Regions from separate parts of the Homo sapiens genome. Here region 2 is linked to region 1. Evidence: fine-mapped QTL for protein levels in blood plasma. Region 1 holds a variant in brackets. A gene starts in the other region. All regions are shown on their reverse strands.

What was found. PIP is the chance, under the fine-mapping model, that this variant and not a neighbour inherited with it causes the effect. Protein levels are from antibody-based Olink assays in UK Biobank. Linkage for the fine-mapping came from a reference panel and not from the study's own genotypes, which makes the PIPs less certain.
Region 2: it holds the start of CLEC1A, and the variant in region 1 is fine-mapped to the plasma level of the CLEC1A protein (UK Biobank, PIP above 0.99).

What each region holds. Positions count from the first base shown.
Region 1 is chr9:114,317,385-114,329,668 of GRCh38, reverse strand. ORM1 (orosomucoid 1) reads right to left here and starts at 6,571. Exons shown (of 6, transcript NM_000607.4): 1 at 6,422-6,571; 2 at 5,864-6,006; 3 at 5,581-5,651; 4 at 4,772-4,879; 5 at 4,517-4,620; 6 at 3,190-3,377. The coding sequence starts at 6,535. The coding sequence ends at 3,312. LOC105376224 (a long non-coding RNA gene) reads left to right here and starts at 11,226. Exons shown (of 3, transcript XR_930255.3): 1 at 11,226-11,475. RefSeq lists an enhancer at 11,506-11,800. The variant C/T (reference allele first, on the strand shown) is at 4,537.
Region 2 is chr12:10,092,480-10,104,763 of GRCh38, reverse strand. CLEC1A (C-type lectin domain family 1 member A) reads left to right here and starts at 5,779. Exons shown (of 6, transcript NM_016511.4): 1 at 5,779-5,956. The coding sequence starts at 5,842.

The DNA.
Region 1 (12,284 bases):
AGCCCTAGAGTATGGCTGCCCAAGGCCAAGGTGGGTGCGGGGCTGCAGCAACATTAGTAAACGTGTGAGTCCACAGATTTCCTAGAGAGGCCTCCCGCAGAGGAATCTCATGTCTTCATTCAATTCCTATCCCTCTGAGTGCCAAGACTTACTTCAGTAGGACCCAGCCACAAACCTAATGATGAAGCACCTTTGAGGGTCCCCAGGCTGGCATGGGATGTATGTTGTGGCGGGGAGAGTTGGGGTGAAGGATGCCGGGTGAAGGCAAACATGGATTCAGTTCCACTGAGTGTGGCAACAGCTATGTCAGAGCCAAAGTTCATTGGGGCCCCAACCCAGCCCTGGACGCAGGCACATTTCCAAAAAGGGACATCCAAGTTGAATGTCTATTTCCAGTAAATATACTACTCGAAGCATCTCCCAACATCTCAAACAGGAAACTGTCTCCCTGTTTTTCCCCATTCCCTGCCATCTGAGCAGGCAGCTTGCTTCTCTTTCACCAATATGCCCCCAATCCTGGAGCAGTGCCCAGCACTTCAAGGGCACTCGGTGTATACTGTGGAATGAGTGATTCCGTGGCCCATTTGCGTTCCTACCTTATGGGTCAAGTCTTTATTTGTATGAATAAATACTTTCAGAAAGTATTCTTTTTTTTTTTTTTCTCGGAGATGGAGTTTCGCCATTTTGCTCTTGTTGCCCAGGCTGGAGTGCAATGGCTCGATCTTGGCTCACCACAACCTCCCCTGCTGGTTTCAAGCAATTCTCTTGCCTCAGCCTCCCGAGTCGCTGGGATTACAGGTATGTGCTACCACGCCTGGCTAATTTTGTATTTTTAGGAGAGATGGGGTTTCTCCACGTTGGTCAGGCTGGTCTCGAACTCCCTACCTCAGGTGATCCGCCCACCTCGGCCTCCCACAGTGCTGGGATTACAAGCATGAGCCACCGCGCCTGGCCTTCCAGAGCGCCTTTCAACAGTGAACAGCAGCTGCTGTTTAGGGAGCACCAGCTGGACCCTGATTCTTACGCTAAACACTGGGCATTGTCTACTTCACACAGTCCCTGTACTAGCTCTCAGGACCCTCACTCTGCCCCCTTTTTACTGATGAGGAGAGTGAGGTTCCACTGGGCCATCTGCCCAAACTGGTTTGGGAGAGAGCCTGGGTTTGGACTCACATTAGTTTGACTCCAAAGTCCACATTCTTTGTTATGTGTGTTTTTTGCTTCCTCTACCTCCATGATTCTTTTTCTCTTGACCTCTGGTTTCTTCCTCACGTGGCTTTTCCTTCCATGTTCCCCACTTCTCGTCTCCCTTGCTTCTCCCTGCCCTGCCCATCACGACTCATTTCTGTTTCATTTTTCAGCGGATCCTCCTCAGTATGGTTGAAAATGGTGTCTTACTGAAAGTAACATTGAAATGGGGAAACTTCTTTTAGGTTCTGAGCCTTCAGTTCCAGGCCACTGTGGGACCCCAGAGGCTGTCCTGTCCACTTGCCTTCTGAGGACATCAGCTCGGTGTCCCCAGCCTCCGTGCTGTGGGCACAGCAGTGGTTTGGGTGCTGAGCAAAGGATGCTGTAGTCTTGGCCCTGTGGAGCTTGGCTGTTGGGACAGGAGGTACAAAGGGGAGTGGTGCCTGAGGACACAGGACTGGACCCTGGGGTGTCAGAGCCTCAGGCTCATGGTCTTATCACCCTGTATGGTGTACGCAGCTGCACATACGGAATAGATGGAACAACTCAGGCCCAACTTTTCTGCCACGGGAGGAGTGCTGCTTCCCTCACGTAACAAGAGGCTGTCAATCATGAGCCCCCAGGTCTGGGTGAGGCCGGCCCTTCGTGGCTTGTGCCACTGAGTGGGCTGTGCCTCGGGCTTGGCTCCACCTCAGGGCTCCACATTTGCAAGATGTCAACTGATTTCCAGGGACCAGCCTCACCCTTACGTGTTGTCTCCTTCTTCTGGGTCTCCCAGGTGAGCACCCTGAGGACACGTCCATGGAGACACCCAGCCCCTCTGGCCTGGGCCCCAAGCCCTCTGCATCACCCCAGCCCTTCCCTGCCCTGCCCTGTCCTGGCCCAGGCAACCGCCTCTTGCCTAGTTGCCCACAGCAGCCTTCACTCAGGCCTTCCTGCCTCCAGCCTGGTCCCCACAACGTGCCTCCCCCGATGGCCATGGTAATACTGGAATAAGGTCCTTGTGATAGGCACCACATGCCTGAACTCTCCCCACCCCATCCACCTTGTATTTGTCTGTTCTCACATTGCTATAAAGAACTACCTGAGACTGGGTAGTTTATGAAAAAAAGAGGTTTAATTGACTCACAGTTCCGCAGGCTTCAGAGGAAGCATGGCTGGGAGGCCTCAGGAAACTTACAATCATGGTGGAAGGCAAAGAGGAAGCAAGTCCCTTCTTCACAAGACAGCAGGAGAGACAGAGCGAAGGGGGAGGTGCTACACACTTTTAAACAATGAGACCTTGTGAGAAACAGCACCTGGGAGGTGGGGCTAAACCATTAGAAACCAGCCCCGTGATACAATCACCTCCCAGCAGGACCCGCCTCCAACACATGGGGCTGAAAATTCCATGTGAGATTCGGGTGGGGACAGAGCCAAACAATATCACACCTCCACTCCTGTTTAGGGTCTTCTGCCTCAAGGTTACTCAAATGCATCCTCTCATTTCCTTGCTTGCAGCAGAAACAGAAAAGGATTTTTTTTTATGACTAGTTGAAGTTTTATTACAATCTTGCTATTAGGAGAAAGGCCTTACAGTAGTCTCAGTTTAGAAATTCACATTTGTTTGCTTGTATTGTTTTAAATGGACACATAATGTACATATTTATGGGGAACTGTGTGATAATGTTCCCAACACAAAGAAATGGTAAATGTTTGAGGTGGTGGAAATGACCCCGATTTGATCATCACACATTGTACACAGAACAGCAGGTTGTATTATGCTCCTCATCTTTCTAGATTGGTTCAGATGCCCCTTCTAGGAAGCCTTCCCAGATTTTCGCCCTGCAGAAGAAAATGTCTTCCCACAGTGCTGGGCTCCCACAGCACTCGGTGCCTGTCATCCTCCATCCTGGCACGTGTGGGGCTCTTCCCACCAGGGACAGCGTCTTATCCAGTGCCCAGCCAGGGTTGAACTCAGGGCAGGCTTCAGAATGAATGAATGAACAAATGACTAACAGCTTAGCTGTTCCAAACACAGAAGCTTTATTGATGCAAGTGAGGGAAAAAGCTGAGGTACACATGTCGGGTTGGAGGGGCAGGATGGCCCCCAAGTCTCTGTCCTGATCCAAGGCTGTGTCCTGCTAGGATTCCCCCTCCTCCTGTTTCCTCTCCTTCTCGTGCTGCTTCTCCAGTGGCTCACACTTATCCTAGAAGGCAGCGGGGAATTGGGGTGAGGGAGAAGCAGAGGCATGGGGACAGGGTGGGAGGTCTTCCAGGGAGAGGGCAGAATGAGCTCTGGCCTGTGGAACCAGCTCAACCAGGGCTCCAACCCTGGCACTGTCACTTCCCAGCTGGGTGATCTTGGGCAAGTCATTTTCTGTCTCTGAACCTCAGCTTACTTGCCTCTACAATGGGAGCTCAGACTCTTAAGAATCACTGGCATTTACTGTGCACTTAGGACCTGCCGAGCCCTTATGCTGCAGCTCCTGAATTCCTCACAACCACCACTACTATGCAGATGATGTAACTGAGGAGCAGGGTGGCCTTGGGACCCATTCGAGGCTCCCTAGCCAGACAGTGGGGGTGCCAGGCTGTGGATCAGGTGAGCTGACTACAGTGGTTGTGTTCATAAGCCCTGTCCCAGGATCCTGGGACTGCAGATGGGGGCAGGAGGTAGTTCACACCACTGGTGGTCATCTCAGATGGCAAATGGAAGGAATTGTTTTTCTTTGAATAGTCATGGAAGTACTGCATGTATATATTTTAAAAATTGGAACCAGCTCATCGGTGCTGTGATTTCACAGGTATTGGGCACAGGGCCACACCAACGCAAGTCTTCCAAACACAGGTTTAAAGAAAAGTGTTAAGGAGCTCATTATAAAGTAATTTTCATTTGTAGCAAAAATCGGGATGGTGACTGTGGCCGTGCTGCAGTGTGGGTGACATTGAAAACCACAGTATCAATTCCCCACTGCACGGGTATTAAAAATGAGTGGGGAGTGGAGGTGGGGTGAAAGCCTGGGGTTTGGGACGCGTCTGTAGGTGGTAACTCCCCGCATTACGTCCCCTCCAATTGCCAATCCCCCAACCCCGTGGCTCACGCTGTTCCCTCCTGTTAGCTTTCAGGTCCTCCCTGGTTTCACAGGGACTTCTCCCTCCTGGGCTCTCATCCACCACCCCTGGGCCTCTGTAGAGCTCAGCTGTCCCTACAGTGAGGCAGGTGCCTAAAAGCAGAAGATCTGCCTAGCTGTGCAGCCTTGCCTGGCAGCTCTCCTGCTCTGGGCCTCTGGGGCTGCCCAAGTTGGGCCATGGACAAGGTGGGCACTGTCCAATCCCTTGCGTTTACCTTTTTCCAATCGGTGTACA[C/T]GACATCTGACTTGGGAATGCGCAAGCAGTCGAGAGCTTCGTAGAACTCTCCCAGTTGCTCCTTGGTCGTCTCTGGCTTGTCAGCTGCAGGGGGAGCAAGGAGACTGACTGGGGACATGGTGGGGCCCGGCGGGAGGCCAGGGAGGGCTGGGGTTCTAGGGGCCAGCCCAGGGGTGGGTGAATGGGGGGTGAGGCCTGAGAGGGGCATGAGTTTGGGGCTGCTAAGCATGCCTACCATAGACAGACAGCCCCCAGTTCTTCTCATCGTTCACGTCAAAAGCAAGCATGTAGGTCTTGGTGTCCCTGAGGATCAGCAAGTGAGCGAAATGCTCTTGGCCTCCCACTGGAAGAGAAAAGGAGCCTCTGGGTGAGAACATGGGATGGCACAATGGTGTCTGTCTTACAGGTGAGGAGGCCTAGGTGTGTCAGTGGCCACACAGCCCATCAGTGAAGGCCCAGGGCTCCTTTGGGCCACCGTGTGCCCAGCCCCTGCTGCATGCCCAGCTCCACGCCAAGCACTTTCTGTACATGAGATCTCAGGAGCCTCACACAGACCGTGGCTGTCAGGGCCTTTCTCCGTTTTACAGATGAGGAAAATGAGGCCCAGAGAGGAGGCTCGGGATGCTAAATGGTGTCAGTTCAGCTCCATCAGCTCCCTGCCATGTGCCACCTCTGCGGTGATGGGGGACATAGTTGAAGGTACCACCTCTCCAACATACAGGCTTCTACCATTGGTTTGCAAAGGATCTTAAAGAGGGCATGAGAGAGAGGCAGATCTGAAGCCAGCCTGGAGTTCCAATTCTAGTTCTAATTATAAGCTGTGTGACCTTGGGGAAACTATTTGAGGTCTCTGTTCTTCTTTTTCCTCCTCTAATTCTCTCAGTGTCCTCTTAGAGTTGTTTCTGAGCACATCGTTAGAGCTCAAAAATGTTAGTGGTTATTTCTCTGTGCCCAAAGCCTCCAGGGCTCTACATCCAGCCCCCACCTTATGCTGGCCTGCCCTGTTCCCACAGTGAACCCTCCTGCCTGAGGGCTGGCCCTCACCGTATCTGGAGATGGTCCCATTTTCCCGCTGGACATTCAGGTAGGTGGTGTTATAGATGCACTGGTCCTGTCTAAAGCCAAACAGAAGGCGGAAGGAAAACAGGAAGATTATTGAGAAGTGGCCAATCGCCCATCACAGTCCTGGGGCAAGAGTCTGGTGGAGATTAAAGCCAGCCCTCCCGGTTCCACCCATGGGAAGGCCAAGGCCAGGAAGAAGGAGGGACTTGCTCAGGTCTTCTGGCCAGAAGCTGAGATGGGGGTGCATTGGAATGGGGGCTCTCACCGGGTCTGGTACTCTCTGAGAAAGATCGTGTCCTCTGTCTTGTTGGGGGTGAAGTAAAAGAAGGTTGCTTGGATCTCCTGAACCGACTTATTGTACTCCTCGTTTCGAAAGGCCGATGCGATATAAAACCACTTGCCAGTGATCTGGGGAGAAGGTGGGAGCTGGTGATGGGGGCTTGATGCTGAATCTTTGACTGTCAGCTGGGAGGAGACTCAGGCAGATCTCTCCCTGATTTTGCAGATGGGGAGATGAGGCCCCTGGTGGGCAGTGCGCATGCAGGAGCTCACCCTGAGGATCAGTCATTGCCCCCCAGGCAGCCCCTCCAGGCCCAGCACAGAACCGTCCTCCGTGAAGGACTCTGCAGTGAGGCTTCTGTGTTTGGAGGCAGGGGGTGCCTCCAGAGTCCCCTGGGCTGGTGAGAATTTCACCCTGGGGACCCAGAAGAGAAAAAGGCAGAGCCGGGAGTGGGGGTCCGACCACAGCCAGCAGGGAAAGGGAAGCCCAGAGAAGGGAGGCAGCTGCCCATGTGCTCAGGACAGGGCTAGCCCAGGCACTCACCCGGTCCAGGGTGGCGTTGGTGATGGGCACCGGTACTAGGTTGGCACACAATGGGATCTGGGCTTCCAGCAGAGGTAGGAGGCTCAGGACTGTAAGAACCCAGGACAGCGCCATACTGAGACCAGGAGGCACGTGGAGCCAGGCAGTGCTGGTGGCTGCAGGGTGCAGTCACCTTTATAATAAACTATGGGCGGTCACTTGGAGCCCAGCAAAAGTTTACTCTGTGTCTGTGACACAATCCTGCCAGCACTTGGGAAATGCCTCGCACAAAACCTCCCCCAAAGGCCAGCTCGGAGCACCGCCTCCAAACCCAGGTCTAATTTGAGTTCCTCACATGGAGAGGTTACAAAAGCCCTAGAGTATGGCTGCCCAAGGCCAAGGTGGGTGCGGGGCTGCAGCAACATTAGTAAACGTGTGAGTCCACAGATTTCCTAGAGAGGCCTCCCGCAGAGGAATCTCATGTCTTCATTCAATTCCTATCCCTCTGAGTGCCAAGACTTACTTCAGTGGGACCCAGCCACAAACCTAATGATGAAGCCACCTTTGAGGGTCCCCAGGCTGGCATGGGATGTATGTTGTGGCGGGGAGAGTTGGGGTGAAGGATGCCGGGGAAGACAAACATAGATTCAGTTCCACTGAGTGTGGCAACAGCTGTGTCAGAGCCAAAGTTCATTGGGGCCCCAACCCAGCCCTGGACGCAGGCACATTTCCAAAAAGGGACATCCAAGTTGAATGTCTATTTCCAGTAAATATACTACTCGAAGCATCTCCCAACATCTCAAACAGGAAACTGTCTCCCTGTTTTCCCCCATTCCCTGCCATCTGAGCAGGCAGCTTGCTTCTCTTTCACCAATACGCCCCCAATCCTGGAGCAGTGCCCAGCACTTCAAGGGCACTCGGTATATTCTGTGGAATGAGTGATTCCGTGGCCCATTTGTGTTCCTACCTCACGGGTCAAGTCTTTATTTGTATGAATAAATACTTTCAGAAAGTATTCATTTTTTTTTTTTTTTGATACGGAGTTTCACTCCCGTCCCCCAGGCTGGAGTGCAATGGCTCAATCTCGGCTCACTGCAACCTGTGCCTCCTGGGTTCAAGCGATTCTCCTGCCTCAGCCTCCTGAGTCGCTGGGATTACTGGTGCCCTCCACAACGCCCAGCTAATTTTTTTTGTTGTTGTTATTTTCAGTAGAGATGGGGTTTCTCCATGTTGGCCAGGCTGGTCTGGAACTCCCGACCTCAGGTGACTCACCCGTCTCGGCCTCCCAAAGTGCTGGGATTACTCAGAAAGTATTCTTACGGTATGATTATAATTTTGCATTCTTATTCATTTCATTCTGAATAACTTTCATATTTCAGTGTAGTTTGTAGTTAAAAGCTTAATGGACCCAAGATGGGAGAGTCACCTGAGTCCTGGAGTTCAAGACTAGCCTGGGCAACATAGTGAGACCCTATCTTTACACAAAAATATTTAAAAATTAGCCAGGTCGGCCAGGCGCGGTGGCTCACGCCTGTAATCCCAGCACTTTGGGAGGCTGAGGCGGGCGGATCATGAGGTCAAGAGATGGAGACCATCCTGGCTAACATGGTGAAACCCCATCTCTACTAAAAATACAAAAACAAAATTAGCTGGGCGTGGTGGCAGGCGCCTGTAGTCCCAGCTACTTGGGAGGCTGAGATGGGAGAATGGCGTGAACCTGGGAGGCAGAGCTTGCAGTGAGCTGAGATGGCGCCACTGCACTCCAGCCTGGGTGACAGAGTGAGACTCCGTCTCAAGGAAAACAAACAAACAAACAAAAAAATTAGCCAGGTCTGGTGCCATGTACCTGAAAGCCTAGCTACTCTGGACTCTGAGGCTGGAAGATTGCTTGAGCCCAGGAGTTCAAAGCTGCAGTAAGCTGTGATTTTGCCACTACACTCCAGCCTGTATGATGGAGCAAGAGACCCTGTCTCAAAAATAAATAAATAAATAAATAAATAAAAGTGTAATGGATGCACAACTTTTCATTCACTTACTCTATTCTTTTTTTGTTTTTGTTTTTGTTCTGAAATGGCATCTCACTCTGTCGCCCAGGCTGGAGTGTAGTGGTGGGATCTTGGCTCACTGCAACCTCTGCCACCCAGGCTCAAGAGATCCTCCCAGCTCAGCCTCCCGAGTAGCTAGGACCACAGGTGCGTGCCACCACACCTGGCTAACTTTTTGTACTTTTGTAGAGATGGGGGTCTCATCATGTTGCCCAGGTTGGTCTCGAACTCCTGAGCTTAAGCAATCTGCCCACCTCGGCCTCCCAGAGTACTGGGATTACAGGCATGAGCCACGGCGCCTGGCCCGCTTACTATATTCTAACCTACTTAGTCATGTCCTTTATGTCTACAGCACTTTTTTTTTTTTTTCAGGCTCTTCAAGTTGGAGTGCAGTGGTATGAATCATAGCTCAACTGCAGCCTCAAACTCCTGGGCTCAAGCAATCCTCCCACCTCAGCCTCTGGAGTAGCTAGGACTACAGGCATGCACCACCACACTTGGCTAATTAAATTTAAAAAACAAAAAATTGTAGAGACAGAGTCTCACTATGTTGCCCAGACTGGTCTTGAACTTCTGGCCTCAAGTGATCCTCCTGCCTCAGCCTCCCAAAGTGCTGGATTATAGGCGTGAGCCACCACTCCCAGCCTATCTAACAGCATTTCATATTGTGATTTTTCCTCTGATGATAAGTGTCAGAGAGCAGCCAATTTCCCTTTTAAAATTACCTTAGTATCCAAGGGAAAGGAAACCACGTGCTATGCACAAAGTCTTACATATTAATGTTCATAACAGCATTGCTCAAAATAGCCAAAATTAGAAATAATCCAAGGGTGGGGCACCACGGCTCACGCCTGTAATCCCAGCACTTTGGGAGGCCGAGGTGGGCGGATCACAAGGTCAAGAGATCGAGACAAGCCTGGCCAACATGGAGAAACTCCGTCTCTACTAAAAATACAAAAATTAGCTGAGTGTGGTGGCATGCGCCTGTAGTACCAGCTACTCAGGAGGCTGAGGCAGGAGAATCGCTCAAACCTGGGAGGTGGAGCTTGCAGTTAGCCGAGATCGTGCCACTGCACTCCAGCCTGGTGACAGAGCAAGACTGTCTAAAAAACAAAAACAAAAGCAAAAACAAAAACCAAAAAAAAAGAAAGAAACAATCCAAATGCCCATCAACAGGAAAATGGTAAATAAAAATGTGGCATTTTCTTACAAAGGAATATTACTTAACAATAAAAATAGTTAAACTATTGATACATATAACACCATGGATGAATCTCAAAAACACTATGCTGAACAAAAGAAGCCAGATACAAAGGAGCTTATATACTGTACGGTTCTGTTCTAGAACAGCTCAAACAAATCTATAATTTTAGAAATCAGATCAGTGGTTGCCAAGGGCAAAAGAGGGCAATTTGACTGCAAAAGCATATGAGAGAACACTGAAGTGGATGACAACGATCCAGGTTGTCATCGTGGTGGCCATTATACACACACACGTATAGTTGTAAAAACTAATTGAACAGTAAACCTAAAATGTGTGCATTTTCTTTTATTTATTCAACCTCAAGAAAGCCGATGATTTAAAAACCCTCCTCCCAAACATGACAAATCCAAAAGCACTAAGGATTTTGAATGTCAGTTTGGCAGTGTACAAGTGAGTCTCCTTATCCCCATCCTTGTCAGAACAGAAATGACCCTTTTTTTTTCCTTTCTTTTTTGTGTTTTTGCCAGCTTGGTTTGTTTCTTGAATTTGCATTGCTCTAATTTGAGGCTTGAAACAATGATTGGAGTTATCAAGAGGGAAGAGCGCAGGTGAGAGAGTGGGTGTATCAGGGAGCTGGAAAGTCTGTGCAGCTGGAGCACATGATAAGTGGGAGTGGCCAGACTTTATGTTGAAGAGGTTGGCAGGAGATGGAGCCTGCAGGGCATGGAAGCCAGGCTGAGGGGTTCGCTAGACTTAGGAGGTGTAGGAGAGAAATGGAAAGATTTCAAAGGGGTTGGAAAGGCATAACCAGATTGGTTCTTCAGAAAGATCGCTCTGTCTGAATGGGAAGAATGGGGAGGGCTAGGGAAGGAGATTAAACCTGAGAAACCAGCTGGAGCTGATGCAGTGGTCCAGGGGTGAGATGATGGGGACAGACTCCAGATACCATTCATCTATCTAACATCTATCTATCTATCATCTATCTACCTATCTATCTATCTATCTATCTATCTATCATCTATCTACCTACCTATCATCTATCATCTATCTCTATCTATCTATCTATCTATCTATCTATCTAATCTATCTATCATCTATCTATCATCTATCTATCTATCTATCTATCTATCTATCTATCTATCATCTATCTATCTATCTATCTGAGACAAGGTTTCACTCTGTCGCCCAGGCTGGAGTGCAGTGGCACGATCTCAGTTCACTGCAGCCTCCGCCTCCCGAGTTCCAGCAATTCTCCTATCCAGCCTCCCTAGTAGCTGGGATTACAGGTGTCACTACCACACCTGGCTAATTTCTTTTGTATTTTTGGTACGGACAGGGTTTCGCCATGTTGGCCAGGCTGATCTTGAACTCCTGACCTCAAGTGATCCACCCGCCTCGGCCTTCCAAAGTGCTGGGATTTCAGGTGTAAGCCACCGTGCCCAGCCCAGATACCATGTATTTTGAGGAGAAGCTGAGCATTGTTGGGGACAGCACCACCATTAGACCTGGACTATTGGGGCCCAGGGATTTAGAGAGCCCCACATATCACACCCACCCACACACCCACCCACACACAACAGTTTATTAAATAACAGATAAGCACCTCTGTCCTTTGGGATCTGGTGCCTGGTACTGGCACAGTGGGACCCACATCACTGATTATTCTCTTTCACAACCAACACTGTTTAGGCCCCAGGAAACAATCTCTACATGTGGCACTCGACTCTGAAAACAACAGGTCAAATGTCCTGATACTTCGTGGATGATGCCACCGCAGACATAGGAGACAGACACTGCTTCAAGAGAGGATTTGAGTGAACTTGGAGGTAAGAAAAAAGACAAATTAACATTTTAACTCTTCCCTTTCAGCATAAATGCCAACAAAAAAACTCTTTGTTTTGCCAGAAACACTGAAAGTCTATTTTCTTGCAATGTGTGGTTAGAGAGATCCTCCTGAGTTAGAAATAAACAGTACATGCAACAGTTGCACATGGTTGCTGAGAAACATTTGGCAATATTGCATCATTATTACTCCTAAATGTGTGTGTCTGATGTCTGTAGATGGTGCCCACATACAGCCTGAATCTAGTTCTTTTTCTCTTTATTTTCTTGAGACAGAGTCTGGCTCTGTCACCCAGGTTGGAGTGCAGTGGCACAATCTTGGCTTACTGCAACCTCCATCTCCCAGGTTCAAGAAATTCTCCGGCCTCAGCCTCCTGAATAACTGGGATTACAGGCGCCTGCCACCACACCTGGCTAATTTTTGTATTTTTAGTACAGACGGGGTTTCATCATGTTGGCCAGGCTCGTCTCAAACTCCTGACCTCAAATGATCTGCCTGCCTCGACCTCCCAAAGTGCTGGGATTACAGTTGTGAGTCACTGCATCAGGACAATTGAATCTGGTTCTTGACATGGGCATGTAGAGGCTGCATGCTAGCCTCGTGAATAATTTTCAGTTGTACAAATCTTTTGGACATGATTTAATTAATTAATTAAATTTCTTTTTTTTTTTTTTTCGAGACAGAGTCTCGCTCTGTTGCCCAGGCTGGAGTGCAGTGGCACAATCTCAGCTCACTGCAAGCTCCACCTCCTGGGTTCACGCCATTCTCCTGCCTCAGCCTCCTGAGTAGCTG
Region 2 (12,284 bases), not on the chromosome of region 1:
TTTTTTTGAGACGGAGTCTCACTTTGTTGCCCAGGCTGGAGTGCAGTGGTGCGATCTTGGCTCACTGCAACCTCCAGCTCCCTGGTTCAAGCAATTCTCCTGTCTCAGCCTCCCGAGTAGCTGGGACTACAGGTGCCCACCACCATGTCTGGCTAATTTTTTATTTTCTTTTTTCTTTTTTTTGAGATGGACTTTTCCCTCTTGTTGCCCAGGCTGGAGTGCAATGGCATGGTCTTGGCTCACCACAACCTCCACCTCCTGGGTTCAAGTGATCCTCCTGCCTCAGCCTCCCAAGTAGTGGGGATTACAGGCACCCACCACCACGCCCAGCTAATTTTGTATTTTTAGTAGAAATGGGTTTTCACCATGTTGACCAGGTTGGTCTCAAACCCTTGACCTCAGGTGATCCTCCTGCCCTGGCCTCCCAAAGTGCTGGGATTATAGGCATGAGCCACCAGGCCTAGCTTATTTTTGTATTTTTAGTAGAGATGAGGTCTCACCATATTAGCCAGGCTGGTCTCGAACTCCTGACCTTGTGATCCTCCTACCTTGGCCTCCCAAAGTGCTGGGATTACAGGCATCAGCCAAAACACCCAGCCCTTTTCACATTTCTTGTAATGCTGGTTTGGTAGCACTACAAATTCTCTCAGCATTTGTTTGTCTGAAAATGACTTTATCTCTCTTTCATTTCATTTTATCTCTCTTTCATTTAGTTTTGCTGGATACAACATTCTTGACTGACAGTTACTCTGTTTAAGGCAGCTAAAGATAGAGTCCCAATTCCTTTGGGCTTATAAGGTTTCTGTTGAGAAGTCTGCTGTTAGTCTGATAGGTTTTCCTTTATAGGTGACCTGATGCTTTTTGTCTGACTGCTCTTAGATTTCTTTTCTACATGTTGACTTTAGATGGCCTGACGACTATGCCTTCGTGGTGATCTTTTTGCAATGAGTTTCTCAGGAGTTCTTTGAGCTTCCCAGATTTGGGTATCTAAATCTCCAGCAAGGCCAGGGAAGTTTTCCTCAATTATTCCTTCAAATAAGTTTTCCAAACTTTTTGTTTTCTCTTCTTCCCTCAGGAACACCAATTATTCTTAGGTTTGGCTGTTTTACATACTATCATATTTCTTGGAGACTTCATTTACTTGATTCTTTTTTCTTCATTTTTGTCTGATTGGCTTAATTTGAAAGCCTCGTCTTTGAATTCTGAAATTCTTTCTTCTACTTGTTCTAGTCTATCGTTAATACTTTCCACTGCATTTTGTAATTCCCTAAATGTGCCTTTCATTTCCAGACGTTCCTTTTTTATGATATTTAGCTCTCTAGAAAATTTTTCATTTATAATCTGAATTTTTTAAAAAAATTCTTTATGTTGGTTTTCACCTTTCTCTGGTATCTCCTTGAGTAGCTCTTATACAACATTCTGAATTTTTCATTTGGTATTTCTAAGATTTTATCTTAGTTTGGCTTCATTGCTTGAGAGCTAATGTGATCTTTTGGGAGGTGTTATAGAACCCCATTTTATCATATTAACAGAATTACTTTTCCGGTTCTTCCTCATCTGGGTAGACTATTTCTTCTAATTATTCTTAAATTTATTTTTGATTTGACTGTGTGATTTTATTTCTTATTTTCCTTCTTAAGAATTTGACTTTAATGTTTATAGTTTGTTATAGCCTAATTTGGTTCTTGGTGCTTTTAGGGGTGAAAATTCTGTATGATTTCCTTGGTTATAGAGAAACTTTGTATGATGGCTTTCTCAGATGCTAGACATAGTAGTAATGTGCTGAATGTGTGAGCAAACTTACTGTCTCTGGAAGCTTATCTCATTCCAATGTGGTATGCACTTTTAAATTTATTTACTTTGCTCCAGTATTTTATTCACTGGGTTGATGGTTCAGGCTTCAGGCCAGTAGTGGAGGTGTTCCTAGGTAGGAACCAGTTGTGGCTAAAGAAGGTGGGTAAATGCAATACCCAATGGTGGGCAGAGGTCTCAGCCTTGACAAAAGGGGCTGGGGGAGCTGTCAGGGAGACACACTGAAGTCTTATCAGGGGAAGGGTGGTAGCCACCTTAGCTCCCCTGTCAGGTCAGCTGGGAAGCTATCCATCTCCCAGACTCACATCTGTCCCAATATTCTGGCTATTCAGATCAGACAGGCCTCTCTTTTCATCTGCTGGAATGTTAGTGCTCCAAGTAGAGAACTGTGACTCTGCCTCTTATGTAAGCCTGAAACTGGAGGGTTGCTTCCCCTGTGGGGTTGCGGTCACCCTGAAGTGTTCTACAAAGTCTGTCTATGGGTGCACCCATGCTGAGCTCTTGTGGGAGAAGACCCAGCTGTGTCTGCAGTGGTGGACGAGGTTGGTAAGAAGTCCCCTTCTCCAAGATCCTTGATAAGCACCAGGGCTGTCTGACTGTTGGGACAGCTGTAGACATTCCCTGCTGAGCCCAGCACTTCAATTCTGCCTCTATTGAAAGAAACTTCCCACCAGTGGAACAATCTAATCCTTAAGACCTGCCATCTGGATTCTTTATTCACACAGGGTGTTCCCTTGATGTGGCACACTCTCCCTTTCCTTAGGAGTAGAAGTTCCTGAGAGACAGACTACTATGAGTGCTGCTGCTCCTCAGGGTCTAGCCACTCAGTGGCTCCAGACTAGTGCTGGGGGATGTCTGCTAAGGATCCAGTGATATGACCTGTCCTCCAGTTTTCCAGCAGCTGTTATCAGCACCAGGTCTGATGGGGGTGCCAGAGGCGTGACATAGACCTGTGAGATTCCTTGATTATAGATAACTTTAGTGTGTTGTCTTTCTTGAATGCTAGTTCAGGTAGTAATAAACTGGTCATGTGGATAGACTCAGGACCTCCTGGTTAGACAGGGTAGTGCAGGAAGTGGTAATAGCTGAGGTCACACAGTAGTTTTGTCCTTCTTGAGTGCAGTGTTATTCCACCTACAGATGCTGCAATGGACTGTGTTGGTAGGCTTCCAGCTACTGGGTGGCATTTGCAAAAGAGTATCAGGTGTGGTAGTAGCAGTGGGATTTGTGCTTGCCTTATGTTGCCCAGGGTAGGTAGTCTGGCTTCTCAGGTGATGGATGGGGCTATAAATCTCCCCAGGGTTTCTGTCCTTTGTATTAAGCTACCACGGTGGGTGGAGGGGCAAAGCCAGATGAGGGCTGTGTTAGGTGGGTCTGCACTCTGAGTCACCATGTGCATGGCAAGCAGCGGCCCCTTTTGGAGATGTGGTTGCACAGGGAGTGGGGAGTAGTAGGCAGCAGTAAGCCTAACCCAGATGTCACACAGTTGGCAAGGCAGATCTGGCTCCTGCAGTACTCTGCTAGCAGCAGTGAGCTAAGTTCCAGGCAGTCTGCACTCAGAGCTCACAACTGCCTGAGGCCATAAACTTTTCCCGTGGTGATAGCAACTGCTGGCGTTCAGGCCATGCCCCTCTCTGTCCACCCACACAGCTGGCACCCAGATCCTGCACTCACGGCTGCAACACATTTCCCACTCACCTTTCTGGTTCTGGCCAAGGGAGTTCATTTCACTTGAGGTTATATTGTGAATTTCAGTTGGGAGTTTTTACAATGTGCAACCCCTGGCTGAGCTAGTTGGCTGAGTTCCGTGAGGTTGTCTGTGAGGCATAAGGAATAGTTTCCCTTGGCTCATGCTGGAGACTGGGAATGCACACAAGCCTCTTCCTGCTGCTGCTCTTACTTTTATATTCATCACTGCTCTTTTAATTGGTTCCAGTGCTGGGACGGGTTAAGGCCTTCCCCCATGGCATGGACTTTCAGGTTCCCCTGTGGGGGTATGTATCCTGGAGCCAGTCTCTTCACCTCACACACCCTGGGAGCTTACAGTTTTTCACCTAGCTCATGGTGTAGGTATAACCTGCTGCTTCTTTCAAAGAGTCTGTGGATTCTTTCAGTTTTCCTGTTCAGTTCCTGTGTTGCTTCTTGGGAAAAGAGTTCACAGTGAGAAGGTTTTTTTTTTTTTTTTTTTTTTTCAGATGGAGTCTCGCTCTGTTGCCCAGGCTGGAGTGCAGTGGTGTGATCTTGGCTCACTGCAACCTCCGCCTCCCGGATTCAAGTGATTCTCCTACCTCAGCCTCCCCAGTAGCTGGTATTATAGGCACCCGCCACCACGCCCGGCTAATTTTCATATTTTCAGTAGAAACGGGGTTTTGCCATGTTGGTCAGGCTGGTCTCGAACTCCTGACCTCAGGTGATCCACCCACCTCAGCCTCCCAAAGTGCTGGGATTAAAGGCGTGACCACCATGGCTGGCCCACAGTGAGAATTTTTTACTCACTATTTTGTCCTTCCAAGTGGTAGAGTCATGCTAACACTGCCTCCAATCTGCCATCTAAAAAAAAAAAAATTCCAATTTTTAAAAAATTTAGAATAATTTGATGAACAACAAACAGCTTGAAACACATGTGAATCCACAATGTGCACTTCCTCATAGATCTTTTATATGGTCTGGCTACCCCAACTGGAGCATTCTGACACTCCTTTATATTTAGCATGCTTGATTTTGCCCACCTATCACCTAACATCTGGAAAAGTTTTGGTAGAGTAATATAAGTCTATTGTACAGATTCAGGAAGAACTTTTAGACATTATCTAAAACAATCTTCTTGTCTTTCAGTTTAGGAAATGTAGATGCAAATTGTTAATTGTCCTCCCAAAGGCACAAGGTTGTTACTGATACCTGTCTTGTTATGGTTTGAATGTGTTTCCTGCAGAATTCAGGTGTTGCCAGTGTGGTAGTATTGAGAGAGGTGGGGCCTTTAAGAGATGATTAGTCCTTGAAGTCTTCTCTCTTGAGGATGGTATTAAGGCCTTTATAAAAGACGCTACATGTAGCATTTGGCTGGCTTGACCTTCTGCTTTCTGCCACGTGAGAATACCCTTCCTCCTCTACAGAGAGTGCAGCTCTCACCTGACATCCAAACCTGCCAGTGCCTTGATCTTAGATTTCCCACCTTCTGGAATGCTGAGAAATACATTTCTATTGCTTATAATTTATCTGGTCTCAGGTATCCTGTTGTAGGTCAGCACAAACAGACTAAGATGGGAATATAATTCTAATGTACTGATTCAGGAAGAATTTTTTCACATTACCTAAAACATTTTCTTCTCAGTTTAGGAGATTTAGGCACAAATGAACTGGCTTCCCCAAACCACATGGTGGTTAGTAATAGTTTTAAAAGTTTTTACTTCCAGTAAATTGTATAATTCCTCGTGATCATAATGTACCAAATGTGCTATAAAATGTTGAATCAAGTTCAGATACTATAAGAAAGACCACTACTCTGTTCTTGGAGAAAGGAAGGGGCTAGGTCCTATAATCTCTTCTCTTTTCACAAAGACACAGAGAGGTTAAACTAAGTGACTCCCTAAAGGATGGGTAAGAAACAGGGATGTGTGTCCTTCCAAGTTATTATTATTCTGCAGACTCTGAAGGAACCACAGTGCTACACCGTGCTATTGTAAGTTCTTGCCTTCTTTACAGTGAAGTTACATGAGAAATGCAAACAGGTAAACAAAAAAGACCTGAGAAAGGCCAACTTTTTGACAACTGTTTAGACTGAGACGGCCTAAACAGAAAACACATGCTATTTCCCCTCAGCCTGACTGATTTGGCATTCAGAGTACAAGCTCACAGGAGAGGGGCTGGGCCTGTCCAGTCAGGAATTGCAGTCAGAGACTTTCCCTGCCCCTCGCTGGGAAAGAACATTAGGAATGCCTTTTAGTGCCTTGCTTCCTGAACTAGCTCACAGTAGCCCGGCGGCCCAGGGCAATCCGACCACATTTCACTCTCACCGCTGTAGGAATCCAGATGCAGGCCAAGTACAGCAGCACGAGGGACATGCTGGATGATGATGGGGACACCACCATGAGCCTGCATTCTCAAGGCTCTGCCACAACTCGGCATCCAGAGCCCCGGCGCACAGGTACCCTGTCTCCTGGAGTCCAAATAGACCACAGTCCTTGTGAAATGTGTGAGATGATCTATCCCTCCTAGAAATGGAGATATTTAGCTTGCATCTTATAATTTTATTTCCAATTACTCGCCCTGTGACATAGTAGTGATTTTTTTTTTTCAGTTATATTCAGTTCCATAATTCCCACACTTAGAGAAGGATTTTATTTCCTGGGCCACTCAGCCAATCTAAAGCTAAAATATGACTTCAGTTCTAGTGAAAAGGACTCACATGGTAATATACACAGGACTAGGTTCTAGGTCCTAAACCAGGTATGCCACTTTCCTTCTGTGTAACTTTGGATGAGTTGTTTAAGTATCCTGGTAGCATCATATTCTTTATTTATAAAATATTAACGGCCACAAACATGTATAAAGGGCTCATTATGTGCTGGCAGTGTTTTAAATACTTTAAGTATATTAATTCATATTAACTTGACTTAATATTAAATAGAAGTAATAAAACTTCCTTTACAAGGTGGTTGTGAGTACTGAGAATGATAAATTATGTAAAATATTTGAATGTCTGTCTGATCTGATATAGACTGACACAAAATTGCTGAAAGGAACACTTTAGGTTCTTAAGAAATGGAATGTTGAAAGGAATCCCACATTTTAACATTCATTCAGTGCCTGTGTTTTAATATGCCCTTTCCCTTCTGATTATATCATTGTTTTCTTCACCTTTGTAAATCTGGATATACCTTTAAAAAAAAAAAACTATCCTGTTCCTTATTTCTTTATCAAATAACTTTTAGTTTTCCTTCCTTTCTCCTACTAAACCCTCCATTCACTTTCTATTTATTTCTATTTATTAAATGACCCTCCACCTGAAACCTACTAATATGGCTTTTTTTTTTTTTAACTAAACTACCCAGTAAGCTGTTAAGGGACATTGGGGATTTCCAACCTCTTTGAAATGAAGCTAAGTGACAAAAGTAGGGATGTCAGCTTTTGTAGCCACAGGATATGTGTAATAGGATACAAAGCGTTTTCCTCCAAAAAAACTTACGAAGAGTCCATTTTTACGGCTGTGGTTTTGAGTAGCTTGTATATAACTTCATTTTCCACCTTTGACTGGAGCCAGGAACTCTGTCAAGGACTAGAGATCAGCATAATTAAGAACAGCATGTACAAATAAGTTCTGCTGAGGTTGAAGGGTGGAGAGGGAGGTGGAGCAAGATAAAACACTAGCTGCAACATCTGGGAGCTTCTTTGTAAGAAATGGATATTGAAACAGTAGAAGTGGAGATTACAAAGAATTGTCTTGGAAGAAATCATCTGGAAATAGTTATCTTAGGCAACATATATGAGATCTTGTTTTCATCTTTTTATGGTAATACAAACATTTAGGGGAATACCATCATAGAAGTATAATTATTTCTTAGATAAACATATCTGATATACCTTCGCTGATAAAAATAACAGCAGAAATCACTCAGAAATTTTCGGCAATGTGGAGGATTCAGATTCAACATAATGATGTGATACCATTAAGAGCTGGCAACTTTTATTTTTTAGAATTAATAAAAATAAATCACACACACATTCATTTAATTTCTAGACTTTTGTCAATAACAATTGACGTAACAACTATGTTTGTGTTTAAAAATGCCAAACAATTAAGATAGTAAAAATGCCAAACAATTAAGATAGTGAAAATGAAAAACAACAACCTCATACATTTTTCACAAACTTATGTTTGGGGTCATGTTATCCTAGTACTGAGGATATAATGTCCAATGTGATATGGTCCCTGTTCATAAGGAAATTGAAAGTCTAATACAATTCTCAACTAAGGAGTAAGTATAATAAGGTGTTATGGCAGAAGCATGTACAGTACAGCCGAGAGCTTAACCAAGCTCTCGGCTTAATTTTTACCTAATTAAGTAGAGGAGTTCAGGAAAGGCTTAACAGAAGGAGCAACTGTGGAGTTGAGTTAATTTTAACATCTTCCACATAATAAGGAATCGGGAGTGAGGGTGTTTGAGAGGCTGGGGACACTATAGACAGAGAGACGTATGAAGGGAAAGTCATGAAGGTTTTCAGTAGCTTTGTATTTTTAGAGAACTATAAGCAATATGTATGGCGTAGGTGTAGAGTTGGAGGAGGGAAACTTAGCAAAGGGGTAAGTCTGGCAAGTTAAGGAGGGATTTTAGGGCATGCTGATCTAGTTTAATTCTATTCAATAGTTAAAATGAAGTCAATGCAGGATTTAGATAGGGAGAAACAAAATTTTGCATTTTGGAAAGACCTTCCTGGCTGCAATGGAAATGATAAGTTGAAGGTATATGAAACTGCATGTGCTGATACCAAATTTTTCCACTAGTCCAGTACAAGGGTAGAAAAACCTGAACTGAGGCAGTATAGTAAAAATAAGGAAAAAGAATCAGATATGAAAGATGTCGAGGTGTTGGAGTTTAGATAATCGGTGATTGGTTACATGTGAGGAGACAAGGAAAGGGACTTCGGTGGTAGGTTGACTAGGTTCTGTTTGATGTAATGTAGATGGTGCTGATGTTAACTGAGACAGAAACTATAGAAGGGACAGGAAAGATGATGAATTGAGTTTGAGTTTAAGGGGTCTGCAGAAGGAGGGACATGCATTTGGAGCTGTCCAAAGACACCCGTATATGCAGGATGTGGGTTGGGCTACATAGACATGTGGGAATTACTGGCATAGTAATTAAATAAATAAAGTAAATGAGGTACCTAAGTCATTAAGTCAAATAAATGGCTAGTAACTAAAATGTATGAGAGTGAGTGAGATCACTGAGGGAAGGAATGTAAAATGAAAACATGAATGAACAGAAGAGAGTGTCAAGGAGATAATCTGAGGGAATATCAACACCTGAGGAGCAAGAAGAATGAAAGATTCCAAAAGGAGCTACCAGGGATGAATAGCAGAGAGTGGTAGAAGCAGGAGTCTTGGAGAGAGACAACAAGGGCATCAAGAGACAATAAATTCAAGAGTAATGGAAAATTAGAGTAATGGAAGGACAATAAATTCAAGAGTTTTAGAAAAGTCAATGATAATGACTGTGAGTTTTAAAAACAACAAATAACAAATACTGCAGAGAGTTTAAGCGAAAGGAAGACTAAAATGATTATTTAACAATTTATCAATAAGGAGGAAAATATTTAGTTTTGACAGCAGTGGTTTGAAAAGGAACTGATGGTTACATAATAAAATAAACAATTTAAGTCATTTTCTCTTTTTCTTTCTCTCTTTTTTTTTGAAGATAAAATGGGTTATTGCTGAGGTATTACAGCATTGGGTGACAGATTTTAAGAATGATTTTTTAAGATGTGGGAAATTCTAACTCAATTGTAGATTGAAAATAAGTTCAGGGAGAGAACTTCACATTAACAGTACAGTAAGAGGAGAGAGGATGAAATAACTGACAGGCTGAGATTCCTGCCAGAGACTAAATTTTATCCTATCAAAAGAATATGAAAAATTACTTTGGTTAAATAATTTTAAAAAATTTAATAATAAATTCAAGTTCCTCTTTTCCCTTGTTCACATTAATTACAGTACTATTGAATTTCCCAGCGTTTTAGTTTTATTTCCTCAATTACAGCATAAATCCCTCATCACAGTCATGACATAAATCGCTGTTAACTGATTCAACAACTCTTTAAATCAAACCTACTAATGACAAGACATTATGGGATGTACTAGAGGAGCCTCTTTTTCAGGTGCTTAGAGAAGTGGAAGGAATACTCTAAATCAATAGTTGTAGTAAATGTCATTTAGTGCTATTAAATCAATGTTGGAGGCCGCAGAAGCAATATAGGAATGAATGAGTTACTGATTGAGTTTAGTTTTGCGAGTTCCCAGAGGAAGTGACATGATCTGGACCCATGAGGCTAAGAAGTAAAATGGGATCCTATTAGGAGGAGCCTGATACAGTACACTAAGAAACTGACTAAAACAGAAAGAGCCTTGGGAAACTTCTTCCTATGGAAGAGAGGAAGTATGATTAAATTTATGCTTTCAGAATTCATCTTGCTGGCAGAGTGGACATTTCATAATGTAGAAGGGAAAAGTTGCAAGCTGCTGTCATTCTATGATTCCAGATGCACTGCCATGTATAAATATTGATCTGAGATGTGTTGGGAGGATAGGAAGATGATTGAAAATGTCCAGCTCTGGAATCAGTCAGCTTGGGTAGCTCTGTGCAACTTAGTGACTTAGGCAACTTAAGTGACTCCTTGGTAATTCAATTTTTGTAAAGGTTGCTTCCAGTGAAATAATGTGTATCTAGAACACACTTATGGTTACTATTAATAACTATTTCTCTCTCTCTCTTTTTCAATACTCTCCATCCAATCATTCTATATAAAGACATGGAGAAACACAATCCTGGGGAGTTACTAATAGTTCATTAGTAACTATTGCTAATAGTAGCTGTGTGTTCCTGAATAAGCTGTCTAAACCTGCTAGGCCTCAGTTCCCTACCTGTAAAATGAGATAATAATATCTACCTTATAGGGGGTGTTTGTGAGGCTAGATGAGAACATTCATATAAGACATTTTTCTCAGTAACTCAAGAAATTTGAGCAATTATCATTAATGGTAATGTTGTTTTTGAATTATATTTCAGTAAATAATATCTGTTGATGGGGATATAAAATTGAGTCACCTAACTTTTACTGAAGATGAAAAATATAATTAAATTTCTAAATACTGTGAATTAGAACCTCAATGATATTCTAGAAATAGCTCATATGTTTTTAGATGTATACTCTTTTCAAATAATAGGAAGGATAACACAGATTTTCATTTAGAGAGTATGAAAATAGCAATATTTGAAATAGATTCATAAGAGAAAAGAAACCTGCATTTACATGAACACAGAAAAGCAGACTCAACCCGTGAACTCAGATTCCCATGAGGAAGTTTCCTATGTGCCATATGTGAGGATTAAGGAAACAAAGACGTTTACATTTCAAAATACAAAGGGATGAAAAAGTGCTTTCTGAAATATTATGTACATTGCCACCAGTTTTGCCCCCATGTCTCTGTGATTCCTGACTGGCTCATGGAAAAGTGTGCAGAGTATAGCGTTAAACATAATTTAATCCTAGCTCTGCAACTAGTTTGTAACATGCACATTATTTAAACTCTCGGTGTCTTCTCCAGCTTTTAAGACCTTTTGCATTTCATAGGTATACTAATAGACTGTATATGGTAATGTCAGCTTAGTTTCTTGGGTGGAAAACAAAATTTTCCCTCTCTGATGCCTGATGAAGGGTAACTGGTTAAGTCTGACAACTCTCCACCCACAAAGTTTCATATAATTACACAGTAATTGGTATCCAAAATTTGACCCTAGCACTAAGGCCTTTTATAGTATGGTTAATACTAAGAGGATACAGGAAAGGTTTTTTTTTTTTTTCTATATATATCTTATTATTCCTAGGGATGTTTATATCATTCCTTGGCCTGTCCACACCCCTTTCTAAACATGCCTCAGGAGACAGCAAAGGGGTTCTCTTCCAAAAAATAAAACCACAATAAAGCCAAACCAAACTCAAGCGACCTCCTAGGCATCTTATTTTTGTGAAAATCTGTCTCATGTTAGGGTGAGGGTGATCCCTGGAGAGAGACTTCAGTATGATTAGGAGCACTTGGAATAAAACTGAGAAACATTAGACTCACAGTTAGAAGAAAAACATCTAGAAGGAAAAATAGTATCAAAGAAAAAGAAAAAGTGAAACTTTCAGTTTCATGGACTTTCCGTCATGGGAGCTTGGTTTCCTGGAAGATGAACTCCCTAGGATTGTGTTTCTCCATGTCTTTTATATAGAATGATTGGAAGGAGAATTTTGAAAAAGAGAGAGAGAGAAAGCGAGAGAGCAAGAGGGAGATGGGAAGAGAGAAGAAAAATTTCAAAATATGAAAATTTGATCAGAGAAAGAGGATTTCTTAGAAGAGATTTTTAAAAACTTTTTAAAGCCTGTTATACTTCTTTTATTTTTTCTGCCCTAGAGGCAATCTTAGGAAGGATCATGTATTTTTTTTCTTTTCATGAATATAATTATTATTGAAAGATGTTCTGATTTCTAAAGTCCAGGCCCTCACTTCACAGTAGGAATTTAAATTCACTCTTTTTGGTCCTTTGGGCAGAAAACAACAACTCCTATGTCCTCAATATTATGCGAGAGAAAGCAGATTTATTTTATTTTATCTTATTTTATTTCATTTCATTTCATTACTACTTTTGAGAGAAGATCTTGCTCTGTCACCCAGGCTGGAGTAGAGTGGCACGATCACGACTCACTGCAGCCTT